Linked DNA regions of Homo sapiens. The gene in region 1 interacts genetically with each later gene. Each region holds a gene or a part of one and is shown in the gene's direction. Other genes may lie near its edges.

Region 1 (5,670 bases):
CTTTGTATTAAATGGTTGAGACCATTATTTGATATAAAAGCTGAAAATTTAATTTTTGTATTTTGGAGAATTCTGTGGTTCCAAGTAATTGAAAGAATGACTAAAGCTGTATGTCATAGACCCTGCTAAAATGAAATAACTTGTTGGGAACATTCCATGCAGATTTCCAAAATGTATTTTACCTTATTATTAGAGAAAGAAAATAAACTTTTAAAATAATCTGATAACTAGCATTCATATATTTAATAAGTATTTTGGTTACAGAAGGGAAGGTGATACTGTACATTGTAACTGCTGAGACTTTTTTTTAACCAATGTCTTTGGTAGATAGCGAGGCACAATTATTTTCTCTTAGGGAGGATTTTGAATACCTATTGCAGGCTGGGCATGGTGGCTCACGCCTGTAATCCCAACCCTTTGGGAGGCCGAGGTGGGTGGATCACTTGAGGTCAGGAGTTTGAGACCAGCCTGGCCAACATGGTGAAACGCCGTCTCTACTAAAAATACAAAAATTAGCCAGGCATAGGGTGGCACACGACTGTAATCCCAGCTACTAGGGAGGCTGAGGCAGGAGAATTGCTTGAGCCCGGGAGGCGGAGCTTGCAGTGAGTTGAGATTGCGCCACTACACTTCAGCCTGGGCGACAGAGCGAGACTCCGTTTCAAAAACAAACAAACAAAAACAAAACAAAAACACCTACTGCAGACCATGTTCTTTTTACTTTATTTTATTTTATTATTTTTTTGAGATGGAGTCTGGCTCTGTTGCCCAAGCTGCTCACTGCAACCTCCGCCTCCCGGGTTCAAGCGATTCTCCTGCCTCAGCCTTCCAAGTAGCTGGGACTACAGATGTGCACTACTACGCCCAGCTTATTTTTGTATTTTTGGTCGAGATGGGGTTTTGCCATGTTGGCCAGGCTGATCTCAAACTCCTGACCTTAGGTGATCTTCCCGCCTTGGCCTCCTAAAGTGCTGGGATTACAGGCGTGAGCCACCGCTGCTGGCTCTTTTTACTTTAGATTGTATCTGCCTGATTTGACAATGCCAAATTTTTTATGTAATCACCATTTGGTTTGGGACTGAGAGCTCTTTCATTTTCTACCAGTCAAACCACTATTAGAGTCTTCATGTTACTTCCCCAATTTGCTAGCAAGGTAGAATCAGCATGGATAGCTTATTTTCCTTATTGGAATTCTGTTTTGGAAGAGGCAGGTCTTATAGCAGGGCAGACTAATTAATGTGCTGAACTCATTCCCTCCTGCTTAAGTGAATAAAAACTTTTATTTGACTATGGATTATAAAGATTGCCTTTAAGGAGCCTTGTTTATTTTGGGGAAGGAGAATGGATATTTTGTAGGAGAAAAAGACTTTATATAGTAAATGAAAAGTCTATGGGCTGGGTGTAGTGGCTCATACCTTTAATCCCAACACTTTGGGATGCCAAGGTAGGAGTATTGCTTGAGCTCAGGAGATCGAGACCAGGGAGACTGCATCTCTATTTTTAATTAAAAAGGAAAGAAAAAGAAAGAAAGTTCTATGACTAATCACCTTTACTCTAAAAAAATTTTGCCCAAATGTGTAATGAAAGAGATCATATTTAAATATCAGCAATATTAATTTGCATAGCTCATAAGAAGTCTTGACTCATTTAGAAAAAGGTTGCTACAGTTTAATAGTTTTTTATTGTCAATATAGACAATATAACTTTATAACAATTTTATGTGAAGAATAATGATTAAATGGCATGACTGAAATGCACAAGGTACAGGTACAATCCTTAGGGAGTTATCTTAAATTTCTTTTTTTTTTTTTTTTTGAGATGGAGTCTTGCTCTGTCGCCCAGGCTGGAGTGCAGTGGCATGACTCCCTGCACCCTCTGCCTGCTGGGTTCAAGTGATTCTCCTTCCTCAGCCTCTCCATTAGCTGGGATTACAGGTGCCTTCCACCACACCTGGCTAATTTTTTTGTATAGTATAGACGGGGTTTCACCATGTTGGTCAGGCTGGTCTCAAACTCCTGACCTCGTGATCTGCCTGCCTCGGCCTCCCAAAGTGCTGGGATTGCAGGTGTGAGCCACTGCACCTGGCGGGAATTATCTTAAATTTCTAAAATTGAATACCCCAGTCAGCTACAATTAATCAATCACTAATGTAAATATTAAAGCCTATTCTTATTTTCCTTGAAATGATCTTAAATGTTGGAAAAGTTTAATTTTGTAGTCAGAGTTAGTGAAATTGAAATTTTTTTATCACCTGCCCCTATAAAATTAGAGAAATATAAGATTGGAAAAAAATTTGATATTTAAGAAAGTGGCATATTTGAACCAGGTGTGTTGGCTTACACCTGTAGTCCCATTAGTTTGGGAGGCTTAGGCAGGAGAATCACTTGAGGTCAGGAGTTTGAGACCAGCCTGGCCAACATGGTGAAACCCTGTCTCTACTGCAAATACAGAAATTAGCCGGGCATGGTGGTGGGCACCTGTAATCCCAGCTACTTGGGAGGCTGAGGCAGGAGAATCGGTTGAACCTGAGAGAGGGATGTTGCAGTGAGCCGAGATTGTGCTACTATTCTCCAGCCTGGGCAATAGAGTGAGACTCAGTCTCAATTAAAAAAAAAAAAAAAAAATGCGGCCGGGTCCAGTGGCTCACGTCTGTAATCCCAGCACTTTGGGAGGCCAAGGCAGGCAGATCACTTGAGGTCAGGAGTTGAAGACCGGCCTGACCCACATGGAGAAACCCCATCTCTACTAAAAATACAAAATTAGCCGGGTGTGGTGGCCCAGGTCTGTAATCCCATCTACTCGGGAGGCTGAGGCAGGAGAATCGCTTGAACCCGGGAGGCAGGGGTTGCGGTGAGCCGAGATCGCACCATCGCACTCCAGCCTGGGTGCAAGAGCGAAACTCTGTCTCAAAAAAAAAAAGGAAGTGGCATATTTGGTAAATTGATAAATTACCACTGTCAAATTATATTGGTGAGTCTATATCTATTGTTGTCCCCAGATGTTGCCTTTGCAAGAATTAGTGTAAAATTGGAAAAAATACTCAATGTTGAAAGCTGTCATTGTTGAGATCTTTATGAAATTATTGTGCCCATGTCCAAGTTTGAATTAGAGATACACAGCACACAATCATTTCTGTTACCACTTTTGGAATATCTAGCATTAGCCTTGATAGTTTTGTGTGGTGTGTTTTGAGTATATCTGAACTGTTAGTTATATTTGGTTAATTTATTAAAAGATGTGTGTTAAACCTTAATATTTATGCAGTGTTTAAGTATTTGGAATATATTTGAAATAAATTATCCAGTGTTTTAGATAAATGGTTATTTAATTGCTTAAAGTGATTCTCTAAAAAATAAAACATTAATGAAATATCTTGTTTTCATTTTTATTAAGTAGTAGCTAAATTTACTTTCAAATTAGTCTTGTTAAAATTACAGTAGATTGGCACAATTAGAACCAACTGCAGTAATTTCAAGTAACTTACACTTACTAACAAATCTTTTGTTTTCTTTATTTATGAAGCCATCCTCAATTATTTTTTTAGTTAATTTTTTTTCTTTTTTTTTTTCTTTTTTTTTTGAGACAGTCACTCTGTCACTCAGGCTGGAGTGCAATGGCACGATCTCGGCTCACTGCAACCTCCGGCTCCCGTGTTCAAGTGATTCTCCTGCCCCAGCCTCCGGAGTAGCTGGGATTGCAGGTGCGCGCCACCACGCCCAGCTAATTTTTTGTACTTTTAGTAGAGATGGGGTTTCATCATGTTGGCCAGGCTGGTCTCCAACTCCTGACTTCAGGTGATCCACCTGCCTCAGCCTCCCAAAGTTCAGGGGATTACAGGCATGAGCCACCACCCAGACTATTAATAAAAGATAAAGGGCCAGGCGAGGTGGCTCATGCCTGTAATCCCAGCACTTTGGGAGGCCAAGGTGGGTGGATCACGAGGTCAGGAGTTTGAGACCAACCTGACCAACATGGTGAAACCTCTTCTCAAAAAAAAAAAAAAAAAAATGTCTGGACAAAGAGGAGAGCAGGTAGAAGCATGGCGCTGTTTCTTTATTTGGAATTATTAAGAATTTCGGCCAGGTGCAGTGGCTCACACCTGTAATCCCAGTACTGTGGGAGGTCAACGCGGGTGGATCACCTGAGGTCAGGAGTTTGAGATGAGCCTAGTCAACATGGTGAAACCCTGTCTCTACTAAAAATATAAAAATTAGCTAGGAGTTTTGGCAGGCACCTGTAATCCCTGCTACTTGGGAGGCTGAGGCAGGAGAATCGTTTGAATCTGGGAGGTGGAGGTTGCAGTGAGCTGAGATTACGCCGCTGCACTCCAGCCTGGGCATCAAAAGTGAAACTCCATCTCAAAAAAAAAAAAAAAAGGAATTTTACTGGGAACTTTTATTACAAAATCTGTTAGTTTTAAAGCAGTTGTGTTTGGGTATGGGCTTCTTTGCTGTTAACAATTTTGAAGAATTTCTTTTTTTTTTTTTTTTTTTGAGACACAGTCTCACTCTGTTGCCCAAGCTGGAGTGCAATGGCTTGATCTCGGCTCACTGTAACCTCTGCCTCCCAAGTTCAAGCAATTCTCCTTCCTCAGCCTCCCAAGTAGCTGGGATTATAGGTGCCGGCCACCACACCCAGCTAATTTTGTATTTTTAGTAGAGACAGAGTTTCACCATGTTGGCCAGGCTGGGCTTGAACTCCTGACTTCAAATGATCCTCCTGTCTTGGCCTCCCAAAGTGCTAGGATTACAGGCATGAGCCACTGCACCCAGCCTGAAGCCTCTCTTCTTCATTTGGAAACAGCCACTTTCTCGCTGTGTCCTCACATAACCCTTCCACTGTGTGCATTCATCTTTGATATTTCCTCCAGTCCTGTGGGCTTAGGGGCCTACCCTTATGAGCTCACTTAGCCTTGATTATCCCCTGAAAGATCCTAATTCCAAATACAGTAATTGGGTGTTTAGGGCTTTAACATATAAATTTTGAGGAGCACAGTTCATTCCATTACACAGAGATATTTATTTCTCCAGTACGCTCATTTCAAGGGGCGATGAGACCTGGGACCGTGAAGACATCTCTGGTTGCTGTAATTATGGAGACACTAGTCTTCTCTTTAGAGATATACACTTATATTCCAAAGGGTAAGATCCTTCCCAAAGAGAATTTAAGTAATAATTAAGTCTGTTCCTGCTCCAGAGCCTTTGTGTCTACTTTCAGCACAATACAAATATAGACATTTTATCTGATGTTTATTGGAGTTGTATTCTAGTTAACTCACTTTTTCATTACATTATGGTCAAGAGGCCTGTGATATTAAAAACTTGGATGCTTTCTCCTAGTCTAAATGGGGCAAATTATCCAAATAATTCAAGTTAAGGTGATAATTTTTAAAAAGTCCACTTCTATGAGTAGAGAAAATTTTATTTTAGTAGCAATCTGTGAGTTAATGCAAAAATTGGAAGAAATCACACCCTGCAAGTCAGGAAATGTAAATTATTACAAAAGCAGAAAGAAACACTCTGGGTTGGTGGTGGTTTTTTTTTTTTAATGAAATGAAACTATTTCAAATTAACACTTTTACAGTTTTTTGAACATTTTTATTAAGTTATTAACTTAAGATAAAAGAAAAAGTCAGATTTTTACTTCTTAAATTCATTTATTTCTAGTTCT
Region 2 (6,266 bases), on another chromosome or scaffold:
AAAGCAGCCAGCCTGTGCTGGTTGCCACGAGCAGTGGCCTGGGATGCTTCCCTGCTGTATCTGCTGCCCTCCTCCCACCCTGCCATGCGTCCTCTGAAGGAGGCCCTGCCCACACTTTCCCTTTTCCTCTGTTCTTAGTATACCTTGCCCTCTGCTTTGGATGCCGTTCCCCATGATCTTCACCTCTTAGACTCCTCCCTCAAAACCTCCTCCATGTGTCACATGATGAATGGATAAACGAAATGTGGTATGGGCATACAGCGGAATATTATTCAGCCATGAAAAGGAGTGAAATTGTGATACCACTGCAGCACGGATGAACCTTGACAACTTTGTGCTAAGTGAGAGAAGGCAGGCATGAAAAAGGCCGCAGATTGTATGATTCTATATATATGAAGTGGCTAGAATAGGCAAATCTATAGAAGCAGAAAGTAGACAACTGGTTCTAGGGGCTGGGAGGAGGGGGAATGGGAAGTGACAGTTAACGGGCATAAGGTTTCTTTCTGGGGTGATGAAAATGTTCCAGAGTCAGTTAGTGGTGATGGTTGCACAGTTGTGAATATACTAAAAACTGCTGACTTGCACACTTTAAGTGGGTGAATTATATGGTATGTGAACTCTATGTCAATCTTAAAAATTAAAAGAAAGGGAAGAAGAAATCCTACTTCAAAGCACAGCCATCTCTGATCCCCCGCAGCAGTCGGCAGAGCGGGTGCCCTGCCTGAGATGTTGCTGACACTTCGTGGTGGAATCGGATGTCTGTGTGTGGTCTTCCCTTTGGGGACTGCGCCTCCTGGAGGTGGTCCTGGGAGGATGGACTGGCTGAGTCCATTGTGTGGGTAAGGACTAAAACAGGGTTCTTTCGTTGAGGTTGACAGTTTAGCAAGGACACCTGTCAGCCACTTATGATAATACAAGTCGGAATGAAGTAATGAGGTGAGTTCTGTAACAGAAGTTTAACGAGGTGCCGTAGAACATATTAAATATAACAAATTCTTTCGTTCTTGGGGACGGAGTCTCGCTCTGTTGCCCAGGCTGGAGTGCAGTGGCATGATCTTGGCTCACTGCAATCTCCGCCTCCTGGGTTCAAGCGATTCTCCTGCCTCAGCCTTCCGAGTAGCTGGGACTTACAGGCATGCACTACCACACCCGGCTAAATTTTCTATTTTTAGTAGAGACGGGGTTTTGCGATGTTGGCCGAGCTGCTCTTGAACTCGACCTCAGCTGATATGCCTGCCTTGGCCTCCCAGAGTGCTGGGATTACAGGCATAAGCCACTGTGCCCAGCCAAATATAAGAAATACTTCAAACGGCCAGGCATGGTGGCTCATGCCTGTAATCCCAACACTTCTACAAAAAATAAAAAATAAAAAAATCTTACTTCACCTCACTTCTACAAAACAAAATTAAAAAACATTAACTGGGTGGAGACCAGCCTGAGCAACATAGGGAGACCTCACTTCTACCAAAATAAAATAAAATAAAATAAAATAAAAAGACATTAGCTGGGCTTGGTGGTCTGTGCCTGTAGTCCCAGCTACTTGTGAGGGTGAGGCAGGAGGATCGCTTGGGCTCAGGAGGTCAAGGCTGCAGTGAGCCACGATCGCACCACTGCACTCCATCCTGAGCAAGAGTGAGACTTTGTCTCTTAAGAAAAAACCAAAATAAAACTTAAAATGGACTTAAATTTAGTTTTTTAAAGAGGCTAGGGAAATAGAAGTGGGGAAAGAAAGGGAGTAAGAATTAGGGATGGAAAAGAAAAGAGAATCAGATAAAGGATTATGCAGGCTGAGAAAGACATAGTTTTACTTGGTTTTCTTGAAAGAGCATTGTCTCCCTAAGTACTCCTTATTGTATCAATTAGAGAATCTGTGCATCTCCCAGTGGGCTCTGAGACTAGGGCATGTGCAGCAGGTGCTTCTCCAGAAAGACTGGTACTGCCCATATGCCTTCCCCATGCGGCGCTGGACTGGATGAGGAGGGCTCCTAAAGGGCACACAGAGAAGGACGGTGCTGTGTGCCGTGGGCCTCTTCCATGCTCAGCCTCTCAGAAGTGGACAGTGGAGTTGTCCACAAGCTACTTAGGCCTGACATCACAGCAGACTGAATGTAGAAGCTGATAGAAGATCCAGCTGACTTGTATTAACTCTGATATTAAAGAAATGTGTGAACATGTCAAATAATGCCATTCCTCCAGTACTTTATTTTTGTTTTGGAAAACAATTATTTTTCATAAAACTGTTAACACATGACAAGCTTATTATTTTATTTTTTATTTTTATTTTTTTGAGTCAGTCTCACTCTGTCGCCCAGGCTGGAGTGCAATGGCGTGATTTCAGCTCACTGAAACTTCCATTTCCCAGGTTCAAGCGATTCTCTTGCCTCAGCCTCCCGAGTAGCTGGGGCTACAGGTGTGTTTTATCATGCCTGGCCAATTTTTGTATTTTTAGTAGAGTCAGGGTTTCACCATGTTGGCCAGGCTGGTCTTGAACTCCTGACCTCAAGTGATCCACCCACCTTGGCTTCCCAAAGTGCTGGGATTACTGGCATGAGCCACTGCGTCTGGCCTATTTTAAGAGGAATTAATACATAAATACTTAAATCCTTTTCTCAGTTTTATTTTCCAATATGGTAAATATCTACAGGTGTAACCCACATCACAAAAAAAGCTCTTTGTGATCCTAAGTCATTTTTAAGAGCATCAAGGAGTTTTTAGACCAAAAGTTTAAGGAGCACTGAGTTAATGGATAAAGATGATAGAGATGAATACTGTGGCACACCTTCTAAGGCATGTGGCATAGCTGGAGATTATTAGGTTGTTACGTCATGAGAGAAGAACGGACTGTGTAGCGAGTTAATATGGCTGTTTTTGAGGAAGAGGGAGGACTACAACCTCAAAAGGAGCAGATGCCTATGGGGTGCATGGTCTGGAAAGGCATTCTGGTCTTGCTTTGGTGCTATTACTGTGAAATATTTTCAATCCAGGGCACTTTCTGTTATACATCTCTGTAGCTCCAGAACCTGGCGCAGTCTGCCACACAGTTTGTGCAGGAATGCCGGCCACGTGAATGGATGAACGCAGAGGCTGGCCTGTTTTACGTGTGCAGTCAGCCCTGCAGGGAAACCTTGAGTGTGGTGAGAGTGTTCTGCATTGCCTGCCTGGACATGGGCATGGGAAAGACAGGTGGCAAGTTCCCATTTGCAAAAAACTAGTGATCTTTAGGTTTGATCTTTGTTTTGGGAGAAAAATTGGCATTTCCAAATAATCCACCTGTTTAAATCATTGTTAGTTACTGCAGTTTGAGCTAATGAAGGGTCACTGACTTGACTAATGATGCTGGTTTTTGTTTTTTGTTTTCTGGTTTTTGTTTTTTGTTTTCTTAATGCCCAGCTGCCCTGGAAGGATTGTGTTCAGCTTCTGTCATCTATCACTATCCTGGTGGAACTGGTGGGAAGAGTGGAGCTCGGAGGTTCCAGGGCAGCACCCTTCCTGCTGAAGCAGCCAATAGACACCGGCCAGGTGAGCTCTGCCCTTTTTCCGGCCTCTGCTCACTTGCAGTCTTTAAATAAAGCAGACTCATTTGTTACTTTTTCCTTTGAGTTAGGACTAATATTTAAATAAACTGTAAAATCTGTTGAGTCAGTAATTTTTTTTTTTTTTTGAGACAGAGTCTTGCACTGTTGCCCGGGCTGGAGTGCAGTGGCGCAATCTCGGCTCACCACAGCCTCCACCTCCCAGGTTCAAGCAATTCTCCTCCCTCAGCCTCCTGACTAGTTGGGATTACAGGCGCCCGCCACCACACATGGCTAATTTTTTGTATTTTTAATAGAGGCGGGGTTTCACTATGTTGGCCAGGCTGGTCTCGAATGCTTGACCTCGTGATCCACCCGCCTCGGCCTCCCAAAGTGCTGGGATTACAGGCGTGAGCCACCATGCCCTGCCCAGAAATCTTGTATGAGACATTTTGTTCTGATTTTATTGAATACTTTCAATCTTACTGAATACCACTAATGGGTTAGAATGATTGGTTGATTTCTGGAATACTTGTGTAAAATTTCCTGGTAGAACAGACTTGAGGTTCTGTGTCTAAGTCTTTTTTATAATTTTATGTATTAGGAGAAGCTAGTCCCAGAGGTCAATTTTAATAAGCTGATTCAGGGCCTGGGAGCAGTTTCTTATTTTATTGGCTGATGACATTCTCTCAATGAGTTGTTTGATTTGCTTATGCTTGGTAGAACCAATGAAGAGTGAGAAAACTTCTTGGGTAGAGCAGACCCACGAATGCTGAATGAACATGAACGTTTTGGTCCTTGATGAATGAACCTGCCTTTAATGGCTCAGGATTTAGTCATCATGTTGCATAGGTCACAAAGAAGGAAGCAACAAAATAATGAAAGCAGGGATTTATTGAAAACGAAAGTACACTCCACAGTGTGGGAGTGGGCCGAGCAGCGGGCTCAAGGGCACGGATACAGAATCTTCTTGGGTCTAAATACCCACTAGAAGTTTCCCATTGGCCACTTCATGCTCACCTCTTGTAAATGAAGTGGTAGCCTGCAGTTAGTCTGATTGGTTGCGGAAAGCAGCCACTCAGAGGCTAAGGTGAAGTTACAAAGTTATGCTTCTATGCAAATGAAAAGTAGACAAAGTTATACTTCTCTGCAAACTAAGACTCCACCAGCAATCAGTCTGAGTGGTTCCGGACAGCCAGTTTCCCACCTGCCATGCAGAAAAGGTCAAAGGGAGCAGCCTCTGGTCCTTTTGTTACTTAGTCATGGAAAGTTAGGGTTTTCCTTTCAATGTAGTTGTAGGAAGTCTGTGTGAAACAACCTTAAGTTCTTTGCCTCTAGATCCTATTCTTCTGCCTCAGGCTTATCTTTTTTGTGATTGAGAAAATTTTGATTTTTTTCCTGTATCTGTAATAGATGAGAAAAGTAAAAACGTTGATTTGACATCAGTTACTTTTCCTTTATAGATTGACTACAAGGGGACATTGTTGAATAGATTATGTGTGTTTTTGTTGTTGTTGTTGTTGTTTTTTGAGACAGAGTCTCGCTCTGTCACCTGGGCTGGAGTGCAGTGGCTCAATCTCGGCTCACTGCAACTTCTACTTCTTGGGTTTTAGTGGTTCTCCTGCCTCAGCCTCCCGAGTAGCTGGGATTACAGGTGCCCGTCACCACACCTGGCTAATTTTTGTAAATTTCAGTAGAGATGCGGTTTCACCATGTTGGCCAGGCTGGTCTTGAACTCCAGACCATAAGTGATCTGCCTGCCTCGGCCTCCCAAAGTGTTGGGATTACAGGTGTGAGCCACCGCTCCTGGCCTGTGTGTTGTTTTTTGAGACAGAGTCTTGCTCTGTTGCCCAGGCTGAAGTGCAGCAGCATGATCTCGGCTCACTATAACCTCTGCCTCCCGGGCTCAAGTGATTCTTGTGTCTCAGCCTCCTGAGTAACAGGATTACAAGTGTGTGCTACCATGCCCAGCTAATTTTTGTAGAGACGAGGTTTCGCCATGTTGGCCAGGCTAGTCTCCAACTCCTGACTCAAGTGATCCACCCGCTTCGGCCTCCCAAAGTGCTGGGATTACAGGTGTGAGCACTGTGCTTGGCCGATTATGCTGTTTTAATATATAAATAAATGTGTTTGTATTTCAACAAAATTGTATGATTAATAGTTGGCAGTCCTTTGGGAAGTATTTTTTTGTAAGACACTTAGGCTATTTACTGACTGAAATATAGAGACATGACTTTTTTTTTTTTTGATACAGAGTCTTGCTCTGTTGCCCAGGCTGGAGTGCAGTGGCGCGATCTCGGCTCACTGCAACCTCCGCCTCCCGGGTTCACGTCATTCTCCTGCCTCAGCCTCCCGAGTAGCTGGGACTACAGGCGTCCGCCACCACGCCTGGCTAATTTTTTGTATTTTTAGTAGAGACAGGATTTCACCGTGTTAGCCAGGATGGTATCGATCTCCTGACTTCATGATCTGCCCGCCTCGGCCTCCCAAAGTGCTGGGATTACAGGCGTGAGCCACTGTGCCCGGCCAGACGTGACTTTTATGATTATAGGGTTGGTATAGATTAAGGTGGCTTTTGGTATAGTGCAAAATCCAAGGACTAGGAGAAAGCTTTGCCACTGATTGCTAGAAGAACAAATTCTCTGGGTCTCAACCTCACTACCTGTAGAATGAAGAGAGTGGGCCAGATGCTCGAGTTTTCTTCCTGTTCTAAGATTAGTTTCTATGAGCCTGTGTCTTCTGTTTATATTTAGG
Region 3 (6,099 bases), on another chromosome or scaffold:
GGAGTTTCCCAGGCTGGAGTGCGGTGGCACTGTCTTGCTCACTGCAACCTCTGCCTCGCGGGTTCAGATGATTCTCCTGCCTCAGCCTCCTGAGTAGCTGGGATTACAGGTGCCTGCCATCACACTCGGCTAATTTTTGTATTTTTTGGTAGAGACAGGGTTTCACCATGTTGCCCAAGTTGGTCTTGAACTCCTGACCTCAGGTGATCCGTCTGCCTCAGCCTCCCAAAGTGCTGGGATTACAGGCGTGAACCATCACGCCCGTCTTTCTCATCCCTTATTAACTGAACTAGATGCATTAAAGTCAAAACCTTGAGAAAGAGGCTCAGTTCAGCCTCTGTAAAAATGAAGACTTGGCCCTGCTATAAGAACTGGGATGCAGGAGGGAGAAGATCAGTTCCGGTTGTTTCATTAGGTCTGAGGGTTGTATGTCAGTTCCTAGAATAGAAAAGTTTTGGCAAAATGTAAGCTGTGGTCACTATAGTTGTAGGTGAACCACCTTAGAAACAGTGTATGCAAATAGAAGACTAAAAAGGTATTCCTGAGCCAAATAGAATTTTTGAATGGCTTTTTGCTACTTTCTATTTTTTTTTCTTTTTTTTTGAGACGGAGTCTCGCTCTGTCGCCCAGGCTGGAGTGCAGTGGCGCGATCTCGGCTCACTGCAAGCTCCGCCTCCCGGGCTTACGCCATTCTCCTGCCTCAGCCTCCCGAGTAGCTGGGACTACAGCCGCCACCATGCCCGGCTAATTTTGTTTTTTTTTTTTATTTTATTTTTAGTAGAGACGGGGTTTCACCGTGTTAGCCAGGATGGTCTCGATCTCCTGACCATCCTTGGTCCGCCGTCCTTGGCCTCCCAAAGTGCTGGGATTACAGGCCTGAGCCACAGCTCCCGGCCGCTTCTTTCTTTTACTCTAGAGGTTGGTCATTAAACAGTTACGATTCATCTTTTTCGTAAGTTAGACATCTAAAATAAGCCTCTGGAAAATGCCTGCTTCTCCGCCAATTTTGATACTGGCTTTGCTTTCTTTCTGACCTCATGTTTTTCTTTTCCCCAGTGATTTCTTTTTTTTTTTTTTTTTTTTTTTTTGAGACGGAGTCTTGCTTGATCACCCAGGCCAGAGTGCTGCAATCTCCAACCTCCACCTCCCAGGTTCAGGCGATTCGCCTGCCTCAGCCTCCCGCTGGCTGGGATTACAGGCACCCGCCACCATGCCCAGCTAATTTTTGTATTTTTAATAGAGATGGGGTTTCACTATGTTGGCCAGTCTGGTCTCAAACTCCTGACCTCAAGTGAGCCGCCTGCCTCAGCCTCCCAAAGTGTTAGTATTACCAGCGTGAGCCACCACGCCTGGCCTCCCCAGTGATTTCTTGTAATTTAATTTGAGAAACCAAGAGAATCTGAAGTCTTAATATACTTTTAAGCCTAATTAAGGAATCAACAATGTAATTTTAAAAATTAATTTCTGTGGTACATTTTCAAAGCACACCTTTCATTTGCATTTTTCATTTTGTTCTAGGAGCTCTTTGTTCAATGCCTAGCCACCTATTCCTACAGACACGGCAGTGGAAAGGAAAAGAAAGTACTGACTTACAGTGATTTAGCAAACACTGCACAGCAATCAGAAACTTTTCAGTTTCTTGCAGGTACTTAGTCTTTGAAACATTCTGGTTAAAAAATGATTAGTAATCAATAGCTCTTTCCCCACCCCTTGCCTCCCTTCTGCTCTCACGGAAAATTAGACTTTTTGCTACTTTTTCCAAGCCGCAAAGTACTATGAGTTGTCACAGGAAGATACTTTTAGTCTTCTCTGTTTGAATGTGTTTGTCATGTGGTCCACCTAGAACAATAGTGAAGCCAACAACATTCACAAGATGTTGGTTGGCCGCGTATGCTGGGCAGTCCTTTACTCTCTACAGGGACCCTGCCTGCCACTGAAGGGAAAACTCAGGGTGGGTCTACATGGCCGTAGTTAGAGCTTAAGTCTACCCTGGGGCTAGCCTAGGCTATCTCAGGTAGTCGGGCAGGGTTGCTCATAAAAGCAGCTCATAGAGACACCATGGTTTGTACTCATTGGACTGGAAAGAGGCCTATAGCGTTCGTTAGGAGACAATGCTAGTTTCTTTGATATTTTACCCAGAAATGCAGCCTGAATTTCATCTTGTTTTGGAACCTCTTATAGAGGTCAAAGCAGGAACTAGTACATTTTGAAATGTGCATTGCTGTGTTCATAGTCTACCATAACCAATTGCTGATGTACGCTTTATGTTTTTAAGATATATTACCAAAGAAGATTTTAGCTAGTAAATACCTGAAAATGCTTAAAGAGGAAAAGAGGGAAGAAGATGAGGAGAATGACAATGATAATGAAAGTGACCATGATGAAGCTGACTCCTAAACCAAAAGTGCTTTAAAAACCAGCCTGGCGAGGACAGCCCTGGACCCACTCCACTGTCTCTAAGTAAACACAGCACTGCCCGCTTTTAGCGTCTTCACTTCTTCACAGAGTTCCAGTGTGTGGTATTCTTTCGAGGTATTCTTTCCAGGCCGAGATTGAGCACCTCATGTACCTACGCCACAGACAGCCAGAGGGAAAGCGACCCAGACAGCAGCCCCTCCTCGACAGGCCCACCCTGCAGCTCAGGCACCAAGAAAACAGCCGATACTGGCAGCCATTGCAGCTCCAAACTGCAGAGGCAAGGCCAATTTTAACTTTTCAATTTACAGTCGATTTTGAAGAGCTTCTACATATCGGTTATGTAAATTCATATATGTATATTTTGGAATCAGTTCTTATAAACAGCTCGATTCAGTTTTAGCTAAATTTATAGTTTAGGTAGTATGTTACATTTGAATTTTTGTCTTAAGAAAAGTTGACTGTTCAGATATTTTTCTACTGTAAAGAAATATACTTTTCTATTAAAGATCTGTACATATTTTTACAGTAAAATGCTTTATGGAACTAGTTTTAGAGCCCTCTATGGCTTTAAGGCCTTGCTTACTGCCTGCAAATTTTGAGAAATTTAAAAATAAGCATTCTAACACTTTTATTCCCACAGAAAAATTCCAAGTCAAATTATCAAATCAAATACAAAAATAAGTCTTACCTCTTGTATAAGCATGTTGTACTAAAAAAAAATTTTGAAACATTTTGTATATTGGAGATCTCTCTCATCTTACTGTTCTTTGCTTTAAATTCCTGGCACTTCTTTTTACTGTCTATAAGAGAAAACCTATCATAAGCCCAATTTTTTTTTTCCACTTAGGGTAAATGTTTGGCTCCTCTCATTTCATTATCTTTTTTTTTTTTTTTTTAAAGACAGATTCTCACTCAGTTGCCCAGGCTGGATTGCGGTGGCGCTGTCTCAGCTCACTGCAACCTCCGCCTCCCAGGTTCAAGTGATTCTCCTGCCTCATCCTCCTGAGTAGCTGGGATTACAGGCGTGTGCCACCATGCCCAACCTATTTTTGTATTTTTTAGTAGAGACGGGGTTCACCATGTTGGCCAGGCTTGTCTCAAACTCCTAACCTCAACTGATCCACCTGCCTCAGCCTCCCAAAGTGCCGCCGGGATTACAGGCGTGAGCCACCATGCCTGGCCTTCATTATCTCTTTTTTAAAAATGAAAAAGTTTATAATTTACATTCAGTAAAATCACCCTTTTTAGTGTCTAGTCTGTGAATTTTGACAAATGCATGGTTTTGTAACCAATCGATAGGACAGTTCTGCCACCCAGGACATTCCCCTCTGTTCCTCTGTTCCTCTCTTCTCCTGCCCCCTAGCAACCACTGGTGTTTTCTGTCCCTCTTGTTCATTGACATTTATTTTAAAATAAAATATTTTAAAATCTACTTTTTGGTGTACAGTTCTGAGTTTTGGCAAATGCAGTCAAGTCACTACCACCACCACAATTAACAGCTATATCACCCTCCAGTAAATTCCCTGTGGTCAGCTCCTTCCCCACCTTTTACCGTGGCAACCGTCAAGCTATTCTCTGTCCCTATACCAGGTGTCATCAAATTTTTTTCTGGAAAGGGCCATGCAGTAAATAGTTCAAGCTTTGTGGGCTTTTATAGTCTCTGTTGCTGCTGCTGAACTCAGCTGTTGTAGCACGAAAGCAGCCAGGTAATTACTAGATGAAGGAATGCAGGTGGCTGTGTTTCAATAGAGCTTTATTTCTGCAAACTGAAACTTGAGTTTTGTGTAATTTTCATGTGTCATGAAATACTGTTTTCTCCAACCATTTAATAATGTAAATACTTGCTAGCTTATGTGCCATTAAAAAATGACTTGATTTGGCTTACAGACCAGTTTGGTGGCCTGTCTTTTCCAGAATGTCATATAAATGGAATCATTCAGTATGTAGCATTTGAGTCTGCAGTTGTTCTGTTTAGCAGAATGCATTTGAGATTCATCCGTGTTGTCACAGGTATCAGCAGTCCATTCCTTTATATTGCTGAGTAGGATTCCATTGTATGGATGTATCTGTTTATCCATTTTCCAGGTATATGGATAATTACCCATTTAGATTGTTTCTAGTTTTGATGATTGTAATTTTTTTTTTTTTTTTTTTTGACAGGGTCTCACTCTGTCACCCAGGCTGGAGTGCAGTGGCATGATCATGGCTTACTGCAACTTCCGCCTCCTGGGTTCAAGCGATTCTTGGGTCTCAGCCTCCTGAGTAGCTGGGATTACGGGCACGGCGTCACCACACTTGGCTCATTTTTTTGTACTTTTAGTAGAGATGGGGTTTCACCATGTTGGCCAGGCTGGTCTCGAACTCCCGACATCAAATGATCCGCCCACCTCGGCCTCCCAGTGATGGGATTATAGGCATAAGCCACCACACCTGGCCTTGATGACTATAATTAATAAAGCCCTATAAGTATTTGTGTACAGGGTTTTTGTTTGTGTTTTTTGAGATGGAGTCTCGCAAACTCTGCTGCCCAGGGCGGTGTGCAGTGGCGCAGTCTTGGCTCACTGCAACTTCTCCTATCTAGGTTCAAGCCATCCTCCTGCCTCAGCCTCCTGAGTAGCTAGGATTACAGGCGCCCACCACCACACCTGGCAAATTTTTGTATTTTTAGTGGAGATGGATTTTTGCCATGTTGGCCAGGCTGGTTTCGAACTCCTGAGCTCAACCAAGTGACCCGCCCACCTCAGCCTCCCAAAGCGCTGGGATTACAGGTGTGAGCCACTGTGCATGGCCTGTGTACAGGTTTTGTGTGAACACGGGATTTCATTTTACTTGGGTATATGCTTATGAGTGGAATGCGATACAGACGTTTATAAGAAGAAACTGCCAAACTGTTTTCCAAAGTGGCTGTGCCATTTTGCAGTCCCACCAGTAGTGAGTTCCAGTGGCTCTGCAGCTCCTACAAAAATTCATGTCAGTTTTTGTTGAGTTTTGAGAGATTTATATATTCTTAATACAAGTTATTTGCCTGATAGGAGATTTGCAAACATTTTCTCCCAGTCACTTTTCATTCTCTTAATAGCATCTTTTTTTTTTTTTTTCGAGACTGAGTCTTGCTCTGTCACCCAGGCTGGAGTGCAATGGCACGATCTCGGCTCACTGCAACCTCCACCTCCCAGGTTCAAGTGATTCTCCTGCCTCAGCCTCTCGAGTAGCTGGGATTACAGGTGTGTGCCACCATGCCCGGCTAATTTTTGTATTCTTAGTAGAGATGGGGTTTTACCTTGCTGGCCAGGCTCGTCTTGAACTCCTGACCTCAAGTGATCCACCCACCTCGGCCTCTGAAAGTGCTGGGATTACAGGCATGAATCACTGCACCCAGCCTGAAGCATTCTTAAGGCACCATAAGTGTTTGAGATCCGATCATTCAGGGAACACTCACCCTTTCAGTTCCTCCTTGAACCGGGTGCCAGGTTGTTACAGTAGCTTCCTAAGTGGTTTCCTCACAGTGCCTACAGCCTTTCCTCTTTCCACCTTGCATACTGCTGTCAGATTATCAAAATGATTTTATGAAGATGAATCTTTTGCTCTCGCTTGCAAGTGTTAAACCATTACTGCTTCTGGCCATTCAGTAAATGATGGTGAAATAGCGAGAATATAACAAAGGCCATATCAAGTGAGTAT
Region 4 (6,266 bases), on another chromosome or scaffold:
ATTACAAGCGCCCACCACCACGCCCTGCAAATTTTTGTATTTTTAGTAGAGACGAGGCTTCACCATGTTGGTCAGGATGGTCTCAAGTTCTTGACCTCAGGTGATCCACCCAAAGTGCTAGAATTATAGGTGTGAGCCACCACACCTGGCCTTCTAAATATATCTATAGTTAATTTAAATTTTTACTTGCCCATGGTCATCTTTTTAGGACTACTTTAGATTAATATGCCTGAATTAATTTTTGTGACTAAGTCTCAATTTAGACAGTCTTCAAAATTATAGATAGCCTGCTATCCAATATTTGCTATTTTGCAATCACCTAGAAACTTGCTTTTCAGGATGGCATGGGACATTGGGTCTTATCTAACTGATAACAGGGCATGGTGGTATTGGAATTTTTGGCCACAGAAATGCAAATTCACACCACACTGTTTCCTTTCTTTTCCATCAAGCTTGCAATTCCTTCCGTTAAAAAAAAAAACAAACAAGAAACAAGTCTTTCTTCTGGAGTTGTTATCTAGATATTGATTTGCGCAAGTGTTCTCCAGGTTTATAATTTTCATGCTAATGATCACCATCATTGGTGCAGAAGGTTGATTGATCTTAAAAATACAGAGATAAAAGTTGCTTCAGATTCTCAAGATTTACAAGAGCTTTTACGGTGTCTGTTTTTCAACAGCTTAATGAATGAAGTGGTTCATACTTCTCCAACCATAGGAAGCAATGTTGAAGAAATAGTTGTGAAGAACACTCATTTTCTTATGTGGGATATTGGTGGTCAGGAGTCTCTGCGATCATCCTGGAACACATATTACTCAAATACAGAGGTATGCTAAGATGAATTTTGAATTTTAATCCAAAGGTCCCTAGAGTAAACATAGAAAGTAATTAGGCTGCACCTGGGCGTATTGACAGTTGCCTTTTTTTTTTTTTTTTTTAAGACGGAGTCTTGCTCTGTCGCCAGGCTAGAGTGCAGTGGAGTGATCTTGGCTCGCTGCAAGCTCCGCCTGCTGAGTTCAAGCCATTCTCCTGCCTCAGCCTCCCAAATAGCAGGAATTACAGGCGAGTGCCACCACACCCGGCTAATTTTTGTATGTTTAGTAGAGACCGGGGTTTCACCATATTGATCAGGTTGGTCTTGAATTCGGGACCTCGTGATCCACCCTCCTTGGCCTCCCAAAGTGCTGGGATTACAGGCTTGAGCCACCGTGGCCGGCCTTTTAATAAGATCCTTTTTTGTAGGGAATTTGGGTTTCCTTTTTTTAAAAAATAAATAAATAAAAATTTCATAAATGAGACTTAAGAATTTGGGTTTTCGAATAAAAGAAAAGGCAAATAGAAAGATTGTTTGGAGCTATTATTACTTGAGTGCTTACTGTTTGGCCAGGTTCTCTCCATTCATCTTCACAAGATTTTCATGTCTCCAGGGTTGGAGAGATCTGACACGTGGAGATATTATGTAGGTTTCCCCAAGATCTCACAACTTTCTAAGAGACCCTGACCGGTGGAGGAATAAAATATTTTATTAATTTAAAAATTTTTTATACCATGAACATTCAAAATGTTGGTAGATTTTTTTTTAATTAGAAAAAAGTAGATTTGCAAATCATCTCTCAAAGTTCTCTGCCACTTATGAGTTCAGAGCTAACTTGGGGAACAAACCTGGATATATTCATGTTCTATTTCTGCTTTTATTTCTTATTAGAGGCAGATTTTTTTAAAAGCCATTCAATGTAGTTTAGAGAGATTTATCCTTGATAGTATGATTTCACAATTGCATCCATTTAATTGTTCTTTGCAAAGAAGTACACCTAACCAATTATTTTTTTCTAAAATGAAACCTTTTAAAAATTGGAGTTGGGCCAGACACGGTGGCTCACGCCTGTAATCCCAGCACTTTGGGAGGCCGAGGCGGGTGGATCATGAGGTCAGGAGATTGAGGCCATCCTGGCTAACACAGGTGAAACCCCGTCTCTACTAAAAATACAAAAAACTAGCCGGGCGTGGTGGGGCAGACTTGTAGTCCCCAGCTACTCAGGAGGCTGAGGCAGGAGAATCGCTTGAACCCAGGAGGCAGAGTTTGCAGTGAGCCGAGGTGGCACCACTGCACTCCAGCCTGGGTGACAAAACGAGACTCTTATCTCAAAAAAAAAAAAAAAAAAAATTGGAGTTGGAAGGGAAGAGGTAGAAAAGGATATAATATGAATAATTTTTGGTGAACAAAGTTGCCTCTTTAAAAAACATGTATTGTTCTAGATTTATATTATAATAGCATGTGTGTATGTGTGTATATATTCCAATGCAACGTGTAAGTAAACAAAGATGGCGTATCATAGATAATCAGAACTTGTGGTAGCACTGAATTATTTTATTGGGTATGCAGAAGCTGTAAGCAAATAATATAGTTAAAGGGTAGCTTATACATTTATACAGTAAAATAATGTTCTGAAACTAGAATAAGTTAGAAAGTAAGGGAAGGGCCAGGCGCAGTGGCTCACTTCTGTAATCCCAGCACTTTGGTAGGCCGAGGTGGGCAGATTGCTTGAGGCCAGGAGTTCAAGACCAGCATGGCCAACATGGCAAAACCCCATCTCTACTAAAAATACAAAAATTAGCCAGGCATGGTGGCATGTGCCTGTAGTCCCAGCTACTCCAGAGGCTGAGGCATGAGAATCGCTTGAACCTGGGAGGCGGAGGTGGCAGTGAGCTGAGATAGCACCACTGCACTCCAGCCTGGGTGGCAGAGTCTCGCTCTCTCTCAAAAAAAAAGAAAAGAAAGTAAGGGACAAATGACATTGTAGCATATGATTAATTTAAACATCAGAGCTGTTAGTAGTTTTAAGCTCACAGTTAACTCCAGCTGTGAAAAGGGCAGTTATCATTGATGAATAGGTCAAAGTTGATTCTAGTGAATCCATATGTACTTAAAGTGTGTCGAAAGGGTAGTTCTTGAAGTGACTGAAACTCTGGAGGACTTAGCATGGGTCCAGAAAGAGATATCCATTACTGATGCCATTTGCATGAAACGTTCTTTTAATAAGTGATCTCTACAAGAATATCAAAATTACTACAAAGAACAGTGGCGCCTGTCACTTTGCATTTTGAAAATTCTTCACGTGGAAGAGTCCCCCAAAAGCGGTAGTATGTCCATTATAATACAAGAAGTTACAGGTATTAAGTAATTATTGACACCTTCCTCTCATTAACTCACAGTTGTTTCCCATATTCTGTTGATTCCTCCTTTGCCACGCGACATTCTTTCCGTTTATTCCCTTCTAAGCCCAACTCAGTTTATATTCAGATTAGTTGTCTGTTTCCCTAATTTTATTTATTTTTGTTTTTTATTTATTTATTTTTTTGAGATGGAGTCTCAGTCTGTCACCCAGGCTGGAGAGCAGTGCAGCCTCCGCCTCCCAGGTTCAAAGGATTCTCCTCCCTCAGCCTCCGAAGTAGCAGGGACTACAGTACACACCACCACACCTGGCTGATTTTTGTGTTTTTAATAGAGACAGGGTTTCACCATGTTGGCCAGGTTGGTCTTGAACTGTCCTCAAGTGATATGCCCACCTCGGCCTACCAAAGTGCTGGGATTACAGGTGTGAGCCACTGCACCTAGCCTGTTTCCCTAATTTTAAAGTCATCTCTGTAATCTAATTCTACCCTTCATGTCTCAGTTTATTTTGCATCTATCTCCTGCTGTAATAACATCATTTCATCTCATTTCTTAACTTTTTATTCTGTATACAGTGTTCAGCTTAAGGGTGCTTTTTCGCTGTATCATCTCCTCCATCTCCTCCTCCTCCTCCCCCTCACCCACCCCCCACATTTTTTAAAAAATGAGTTAGGGCCTCTCTCTCACCCAGGCTGGAGTGTAGTTGCATGATTCTCAGTACAGCCTCAACTTCCTAGGCTCAAAGCAGTCCTCCCACCTTAGCCTCCCAAGTAGGTGGGACTATGTGCATGGCTAATTTTTATTTTTTGTAGAGAGACAGGTTCTCACTATGTTGCCCAAGCTAGTCTCAAACTCCTGGGCTCAAGCAGTCATCCCACCTCACCTCCCAGAGTGCTGGGATTATATGTGTGTGAGCCACAATGCCTGGCCTATATCTTCTTATTTTTTAATATGCAAACTCCCTTTTTTCATGTATAGCTTTACCAACAGATTTCTCCTCTTTTTTCTGGTGTCTTGCCTTTATTTAATTTCACCTGAATCTCCAGTATATAATGCCTAAGTATATATGTTTCAATCTGGAGCATTTATGGTGGATACTGTTTTATAAAATTGTCTTATTTTTAAAATGCATTTATCTTTTTCTTTCAAACTAGCTTTTCTTTCTAAGAGTTAGGAGATTGTGGTATACACAAGTAAGCAATTATTGACTGTTTAGATGAATGATAATGGAGTACTTTGAAGTTTTAGTGAAAAATATTATTGAAATTAGTGTAAGTTTCTTTTCAAAAATTGCTTTTTACTACCAGCATTTGAAAACAAATCATAGTATTATGTATTCGGGCATCACTTAAAATAAAACAAGTGGGGCACAGTTTTTATTTGTTGAAGCTATGAGTTATTTTCTTACTGTTAACATTTGGATTTTACTGCTTGATGTGGTTCAGTATTATAAAAGCTGTTTATGGTGAAAAAGCAGTAGATGTTTTATAGTAATGATGATGCCATGTAGAGAAAGTACTTAGATTACTTGAGTAGTTTTACAGAAAACTTTTCAGCATCCCATTCAATTTTCTGTCTTTCCTTTTAATTTTCTTCTAGTTCATCATTCTTGTTGTTGATAGCATTGACAGGGAACGACTAGCTATTACAAAAGAAGAATTATACAGAATGTTGGCTCATGAGGTAAATTTTTAAAGTAAATCTTTAAAAAACAGTGTAGTAAAGTATCTGTACGTTGCCTTTGCTTTTTTGCAAAGATTAATGTGATATGATGTTGGCTATTTTATGATTAACACAACTTTATGTACTAAACTGATGAAAGTCTTGAGGTAAAAAAAAATGTTCATTACTTTTTCAAACTTAAAAAACCCTAACACATTAATTTGTAGATTACTACTGTTATTGTAAAAATTTTTCAAAGCTAAAGTTACTTAAGCATGCCTTTAAAAGTCTGATAAATTGAGATAAGCAAAAGGAAAACTTAAGGGTCTTTTCCCCAAAAGTTTCAATAACTGAAAGGTTTTTTTTTTGTTTTTTGTTTTTGTTTTTGTTTTTTTTGAGACGGAGTCTTGCTCTGTTGCCCAGGCTGGAGTACCGTGGCGCGATCTTGGCTCACTGCAACCTCCGCCTCCTGGGTTCAAGCAGTTCTCTGCCTCAGCCTCCCGAGTAGCTGGGATTACAGGAACCCGCCACCACGCCTGGTTAATTTTTGTATTTTTAGTAGAGACAGGATTTCACCATCTTCGCCAGCCTGGCCTTGAATTCCTGATGTCGTTATCCGCCTGCCTCAGCCTCCCAAAGTGCTGGGATTACAGGTGTGAGCCACTGTGCCTGGCCTGTATTCCATGTTTTTCAAACTTATACTATATAATATATATCTTTCTGAATCTTGCTCTTTTTGTACAACATTGTGACTTATCCATGATAATATATTCTGATTATCCATCTTAATATGTACTGCTTTCGTTCATTCCTTTTAACAACTGTATAGTTTTCCACAGTATGAGTATATCACAATCTATTCTTCTAATGTTTTCATAGTATAAACAATGCTGAAATGAATATTAACCAATGACCTTATGTTATACAAAGACTAGTAAGTAATAAGTATTGCCCAGCTCCCACCACCAGTACTCTTAAGTTTTGGATAAACTCTAGTATTTGGCAACATACTACCATATTTGCCTATTAGAATATTAATTATGTATTTTTGAGTCAGTATTTAAAATTCAGGTGTATTTTTTTTTTTCAGTTTGACCAGTTCGACTCAAAAATAAAAAATAATTATTTAATATTAATCTGTTGGAATGAATAATGAAATTACGGGTATTTGAGATTATTTTTATGTTAAATACTAGTGCCCGATTATGTTAAAGTAGAAGCACTTCATTATAACTGTTCAGCTGGGTAAATTTAAATTGTGGTATTTCACATATTAGAAATATTTTGTCTTGATTGCAGGATTTACGGAAGGCTGCAGTCCTTATCTTTGCAAATAAACAGGATATGAAAGGGTGTATGACAGCAGCTGAAATCTCGAAATACCTCACCCTTAGTTCAATTAAGGATCATCCATGGCACATTCAATCCTGCT
Region 5 (6,266 bases), on another chromosome or scaffold:
TTCAAATTTGAGGGCAAGTAGACTTCTTGGGCACTATGTTCTTTCTCCCACATCACATCATACCTCTCTTCTCATTCTGTTTTTAGTGATGAGAGATTAATCAGTGGGATTAGGTGGGGTCAGCCTGGAGCAGTCCTTTCTTTACAACTATGATCCTAGGACTTTGGCTGCATAATGTCTGTCATTTCCCCCCTCTCTTATATAACATCTCAAGCTGTTAAGGGTGAAGTACCGCATACAGGTTTCCCACTTGTAGATCACACTGGGGATTTTTGTTATTGGGTTCCATGTGGCTTGGGCTGGTGATGGGTTTTAGTTTTAACTCAAGGTAGGACAGCATCCCTCGCTTGATGGTAACTTTTTGTCTCTTGCCTGGCAGATCTGTGCGAGAGCGAGAGAGTCACAGTCGAAAGAGTGCCAGCTCCTGTGATGTTTCATCCAGCCCTTCCCTACCAAGCCGCACACTGCCCACTGAGGAAGTGAGGAGCCAGGCTTCTGACGACAGCTCCCTAGGCAAGAGTGCCAACATCCTGATGATCCCACACCCCCACCTGCACCAGTATGAAGTCAGCAGCTCCTTGGGATACACCAGCACTCGAGGTAAGAGTGCTGAAGCACAGACAGAGCCAGGGACATCTTTCTTAATATAGTGGGTGACTGGAGGTGGGAGGATTGGTCAGAGGTGGGGTGTAAATCCCACATCTTAATGATTTCTTTGCCAGTGCAGTAGGTACAAATCACTTTAGCTGTTAGCTATGTATATATTATACTTCTTTTTTTTTTTTTTTTTTTTTTGGTGACAGAGCACCTAGGATAAAGTGCAGTGATGCAATCACAGCTCACCTCAGTGCGGCCTTGAACTCCTGGACTCAATCGATCCTCCCACCTCTGCCTCCCAAGTAACTGGGACTATAGCATGCCACCACACCCAGCTGATTATCATATTTTTTTTTGTAGAGGTGGGGAAGTGCAGTGATGCAATCACAGCTCACCTCAGTGCGGCCTTGAACTCCTGGACTCAATTGATCCTCCCACTTCTGCCTCCCAAGTAACTGGGACTATAGCATGCCACCACACCCAGCTGATTATCATATTTTTTTTTGTAGAGGTGGGGTTTTACCATTCCCAGGCTGGTCTTGAACTCCTGGACTCGAGGGATCCACCCATTGGCCTCCAAAAGTGCTGAGATTACAGGCATGAACCAATGTTACCGCACCCTGCCTCTATTATACTATTTTTTGTTTAGCCTTTCTTCATCCATCATTTAACTGTATGCCTTTCCATATGTTAATGGAAAGCTTTTCTTAGGCCTAGGGTCAAAAGGGTTTATTTCCTTATGATTTCCATTTGTGCCATATATAAAACAACCTCTGTCTTAATGTTGCATTTTAGTTTCTCATTTACCGGTCGGGCGCAGTGGCTCACACCTGTAATTCCAGCACTTTGGGAGGCCAAGGCGGGTGGATCACTTGAGGCCAGAAGTTTGAGACCAGCCTGGTCAACATGGTGAAACGCCGTCTCTACTCAAAATACAAAAATTAGCTAGGTGTGGTGGCGGGTGCCTGTAATCCCAGCTACTCAGGAGGCTGAGGCAGGAGAATCACTTGAACCTGGCAGGCGTAGTTGCAGTGAGCCGAGATTCCACCACTGCACTCCAGCCTGGGTGACAGAGGGAGACTCCACCTCAAAAAAAAAAAAACAAAAAACTTTTTTTTTCACTTACCTGTTTTTTTTTAACTTTTATTTGCATTGATTTTGTACCGAATTTATTCCCATACTATCAGTTTTTGTTTCTTCAGTTTCTTTCTTTTCTTTTTTTTTCTTTTCTTTTTTTCTGAGACAGAGTCTTGCTCTGTTGCCCGGGCTAGGGTACAGTGGCATGATCTCAGCTCACTGCAACCTCTGCCTCCTGGGTTCAAGTGATTCTCTTGCCTTAGCCTCCCAAGTAGCTGGGATTACAGGCACACACCACCACACCAGCTAATTTTTGTTTTTTTAGTAGAGATGGGGTTTTGCCGTGTTGGCCAGGCTGGTCTCAAACTCCTGGCCTCCAATGATCCACCCACCTCGGCCTCCCAAAGTGCTGGGATTACAGGCGTGAGCCACCATGCCTGGCCTTGGGATATCTTTTTCTTCTGTGCAATGTCCTCTTCTGGTTTAGGAATAATTTATTCCTTTTCCATGAGGATCATCTTGGTTTCGCAGGGGGAGCTCATGTATGGGTTAATCTGACCATGAGCTCTTTACATCAGGCAGCACATCTTGGGTGCTTTGTTCACCTGGACATGCTCAATGACCAGAGGATCTGCACCTGAACCCTTAAGTTCGGCATGACTGTGCATTTTTAAGCATATGTAGCAATAATTCAGTACTCTTTTTTGGCCACTGACCCCGTGTGCAGCCGTGCTGTGTGGCCTGGGACCACCTACTATCTCCATCATTGTAATGTGGAAATGGTACACATTGTTTCTGTAAAGTGACATATTTCTTTCTTTCTTTCTTTCTTTTTTTTTTGTGATGGAGTTTCACTCTTGTCCCCCAGGCTGGAGTGCAATGGCGTGATCTTGGCTCACTGCAACCTCTGCCTCCCGGGTTCAAGCAATTCTCTTGCCTCAGCCTCCCGAGTAGCTGTGATCACAGGTGCCTGCCACCATGCCTGGCTAATTTTTGTATTTTTAGTAGAGATGGGGTTTCACCATGTTGGTCAGGCTGGTCTCGAACTCCTGACCTCAGGTGATCTGCCCACCTCAGCCTCCCAAAGTGCTGGGATTACGGGCGTGAGCCACCTTGCCTGGCCAAAGTGACATCTTTCATATACTTGGTGGCTTTTTATATATGCATACCCTTGATGGCCTGAGCAGTTTCATGGGTGGTTTCTTTTATTTGTTTGTTTTGAGACAGGTTCTCACTCTGTTGCCCAGGCTGTAGTGCAGTGGTACAATATTGGCTCACTACAGCCTCAACCTCCTGGGCTCACGTGATCCTCCCACTTCAGCCTCCCAAATAGCTGGGACTACAGGTGTGCACCACCACACCCGGCTAGTTTTTAAAGTTTTTGTAGGGACGGTCTCAATCTGTTGCCCAGGCTGGTCTCGAACTCCTGGGCTCAAGTGATCCTTCCACCTTGGTCTCCCAAAGTGCTGGGATTACAGGAATAAGCTACTGTACCTGGCCTGTACTCATCTTTTTTTTTTTACTAGGTTTTTCTCTTTTATTTCCTTAATAACTAACTAGACTATGTTCTTTTTTATTTTGTAAGTTAGAGCATCAATTCATTAATTTACAATGAACAGTAAAACTTTCACAGAAATCTGAACATTCTCTTCTTTCCTGCAAAGCAACTTGAGGAATGAAATACAGTATTACAGTGTATGAGGTTCTGTGCTAGGCATTGGGTAGATAATGATGGCCAAGACAAATTCCTTGGAGTTTGCATCTGCTGGACCCACTTTTTCATCTGGGTGGTTGCTTAATGAACATGGAATACACACAAGAAGAGTTGGTTGTGGATTTCAGTTCTTTGATCCACTCAGGCATGCTGTCTCTGTCTCCATAATGGGACCTGTCTACCATTGCGCCAGACAGGTGGTGTCTAAATATCATACCATCTCCTTGCCTGGTCAAGGCTGGAGGCATCCATTTCTTCGTTATTTTTTTCTCAGTAATTTTTTTAGCATAATAACATTTTATTGCTTACTCATGTCCCAGCCCACTAAGTCAGTGGAGGGGCTACTGATCCACTCAGTCCATTCAGGAACTCAGGTTCCTTCCATCCTGGGATGCCATGATTATCAACATTGGTCTCCTGGGTTGCCACAAAGGGAAAAAGAATGCAGATCATTTGTGGAGATCATTGTGGTCCAGGCCTGGATTTGAAGCATATAATTTCTACCTGGCCAGAACTAAGTCATTTGGCTTTATTGCAAAGGGTCTGGGAACTATAGTCTTGTGTCCAGTAGGAAAATCAAATGGGTTTATAGTGAAGACATTGACTAGCTCTGCCAAGATCTGCCCTTCTGGTGACCACATAGCTATTTTTATTGTTCCTCCCTCTTAGAGAATATACTCGTTCCTTTCCCAAGGGAGACAACTCAAGTCCCATCATTCAGTCATTGCTTCCAGCTCAAAGTTCAGGATCTTCAGGCAGTGTCCTTCCCATCAGATTTGGTTGTGACTTCATTTTGCCAGTAATTTAGAACCAAAACTCCCTTCTCCCAAGTATTTAAAAGCAAACAAATGCAAACATATTTCATTTCTTTATAGTTTGACAGTTTTGCTCATTTCTCTCACTCCCTGACATTTATAATGCCCAAGATTCTTGTCAGCCTTGGTTTATCATTCTACCTAGCTCTGGTTTCACTGTGGTTCTGTGGTTTTTCTTTGTGACTCAACTCCATGATAACTGGCAGATGTCCTGGAGAACATGATGGAGCCACCACAGCGAGACTCCAGTGCACCAGGGAGGTTTCACGTTGGCAGTGCAGAATCCATGCTGCATGTTCGACCTGGTGGATACACGCCCCAGAGAGCACTGATTAACCCCTTCGCTCCCTCTCGGATGCCCATGAAGCTTACGTCCAACAGAAGGCGCTGGATGCACACTTTTCCTGTGGGTAAGTTGGTTGCTTAAGAGAGAGCCTTGGACTAGGAGCTCCTAGCCCTGGTCCTCAGTGTCGGTCACCCATGTGTCCTTGGTCAGGTGCCTCTGTTGCTCCACCTGTAAGATGGGATAACCATGCCCACTTTGGCCATCCCAGGGGTTCTTGTAAAGATCCTTGAAGATGCACTTGGGAATAGGCTTTGTAACTAATTAGCTGTATAAACCTGAGGGCTTTTTTGTTTGTTTCTGCCCTTTTTTTTTTTTTTTTCTTTTGAGACAGGGTCTCACTCTAGTTGCCTAGGCTGGAGTGCAGTGGTGCAGTCTCAGCTCACTGCAGCCTCAACCTTCAGGGCTCAGGTGATTCTCCCACCTCAGCCTCCCAAGTAGCTGGGACTGTAGGTACGTGCCACCAGGCCTGGCTAGTTTTTTGTATTTTTAGTAGAGACAGGGTTTCACCATGTTGCCTAGGCTGGTCTTGAACTCCTGGACACAAGCAATCTGCCCACCTTAACCTCCCAGAGTGCTGGGATTATAGATGTGAGCCACCGCATCCGGCCCTTTGTTTCTATTTGAGAGGAACTATGCATTGCCACCTGCTTTCTTTCCTAAGTCAGATGTCCCTCATTCTTGTTCATTCCTTCTTCTCTTAGATCTCTTGGATATTGATATCCTGTCTTGGTTACAAGGAGTTATGTTGTTTTGTTTTCTGTTAGGTCTCTCTGACAACTGAAAAAAAATTTTCCCCTGAATTCACTTTTTCCTAGTCCATTCTTTTTTATCTATATTCTGTTCTCAAGAAGATGACAGTAAGATTGTCTCAAGCTGTGGCTAAAATTAAACTTTAGCTTAATGGGCTCTTATTGAGCTGGAAAGGAACAAATGCATTAAACTCCAGGATTTTGTGTGTGTGTGTGTGTGAGACAGTGTCTCACTCTGTTACGTAGGCTGGAGTACAGTGGCGTGATCTCAGATAACTGCAACCTCTGCCTTTTGGGTTCAAACAATTCTTCTGCCTCAGCCTCCCAAGTAGCTGGGATTACAGGCATACATCACCACACCTGGCTAATTTTTGTATTTCTAGTAGAGACGGGGTTTCACCATGTTGGTCAGGCTGGTCTCAAACTCCTGATCTCAAGCAGTCCACCCACCCCGGCTTCCCAGTGTGCTGGCATTACAGGCGTGAGTCACCGTGCCTGGCCAAATTTTTATTTTATTTTTTTCATGGAAACCATCCTGCTGAATACCTGGAAATGCCTATTTTCTTTTGTACTTGCCTTTAATATTTAAAAGTTAAATAAGTGAGAAATAGATCTGAATCATTTGGCTGTAACTGGGGGGTCATGCCTAAACCCCGTTCTGCCCCCTTATCTCTGCTATAATCAGTCACACTACTTGTTTCTTTCTGTGTCCTTTCCCCTCCATTATTGTCTCCACTGGTTCCCTTCCAGGTCACTTAGAACTCTTGGTGTTTCTTCAGTGACCTTCATCTTTTCATGCTTCTGTGCTTCTCCTCCTCCCACTCTTCATGTACACTTTATTGGAACCATATTCTGCAAACAGTTTGCTTCGCTTCTTCCTCCTGTTTAGCTGGCCTTTCAGTAGCCAAGGCCCTCCTTCATCAGGGTTCCCTGTCTTCCTCATTCCTATCCTCAGAGGCTCTCTTCCT

Evidence for each region.
Region 2: changes in SLC33A1 (region 1) and TRAPPC9 together harm fitness less than expected from each alone (positive genetic interaction), as found in Homo sapiens cells (one large-scale study listed by BioGRID).
Region 3: changes in SLC33A1 (region 1) and CHRAC1 together harm fitness less than expected from each alone (positive genetic interaction), as found in Homo sapiens cells (one large-scale study listed by BioGRID).
Region 4: changes in SLC33A1 (region 1) and ARL5B together harm fitness less than expected from each alone (positive genetic interaction), as found in Homo sapiens cells (one large-scale study listed by BioGRID).
Region 5: changes in SLC33A1 (region 1) and DEPDC5 together harm fitness more than expected from each alone (negative genetic interaction), as found in Homo sapiens cells (one large-scale study listed by BioGRID).

The regions. Positions count from the first base shown.
Region 1 is NC_000003.12:155,818,723-155,824,392, reverse strand, and holds the end of SLC33A1 (acetyl-coenzyme A transporter 1), read left to right. Parts: 3' UTR 1-3,369; downstream 3,370-5,670. UniProt on the Homo sapiens protein: Acetyl-CoA transporter that mediates active acetyl-CoA import through the endoplasmic reticulum (ER) membrane into the ER lumen where specific ER-based acetyl-CoA:lysine acetyltransferases are responsible for the acetylation of ER-based protein substrates, such as BACE1.
Region 2 is NC_000008.11:140,432,365-140,438,630, reverse strand, and holds part of TRAPPC9 (trafficking protein particle complex subunit 9), read left to right. Parts: intron 1-3,390; coding exon 3,391-3,519; intron 3,520-6,266. UniProt on the Homo sapiens protein: Functions as an activator of NF-kappa-B through increased phosphorylation of the IKK complex. May function in neuronal cells differentiation. May play a role in vesicular transport from endoplasmic reticulum to Golgi.
Region 3 is NC_000008.11:140,512,851-140,518,949, forward strand, and holds the end of CHRAC1 (chromatin accessibility complex protein 1), read left to right. Parts: intron 1-1,518; coding exon 1,519-1,645; intron 1,646-2,275; coding exon 2,276-2,397; 3' UTR 2,398-4,304; downstream 4,305-6,099. UniProt on the Homo sapiens protein: Forms a complex with DNA polymerase epsilon subunit POLE3 and binds naked DNA, which is then incorporated into chromatin, aided by the nucleosome remodeling activity of ISWI/SNF2H and ACF1.
Region 4 is NC_000010.11:18,667,851-18,674,116, forward strand, and holds part of ARL5B (ADP-ribosylation factor-like protein 5B), read left to right. Parts: intron 1-679; coding exon 680-827; intron 828-4,771; coding exon 4,772-4,855; intron 4,856-6,133; coding exon 6,134-6,266.
Region 5 is NC_000022.11:31,814,613-31,820,878, forward strand, and holds part of DEPDC5 (GATOR1 complex protein DEPDC5), read left to right. Parts: intron 1-379; coding exon 380-600; intron 601-803; coding exon of another isoform or gene 804-817; exon of another isoform or gene 818-1,379; intron 1,380-4,409; coding exon 4,410-4,613; intron 4,614-6,266. UniProt on the Homo sapiens protein: As a component of the GATOR1 complex functions as an inhibitor of the amino acid-sensing branch of the mTORC1 pathway.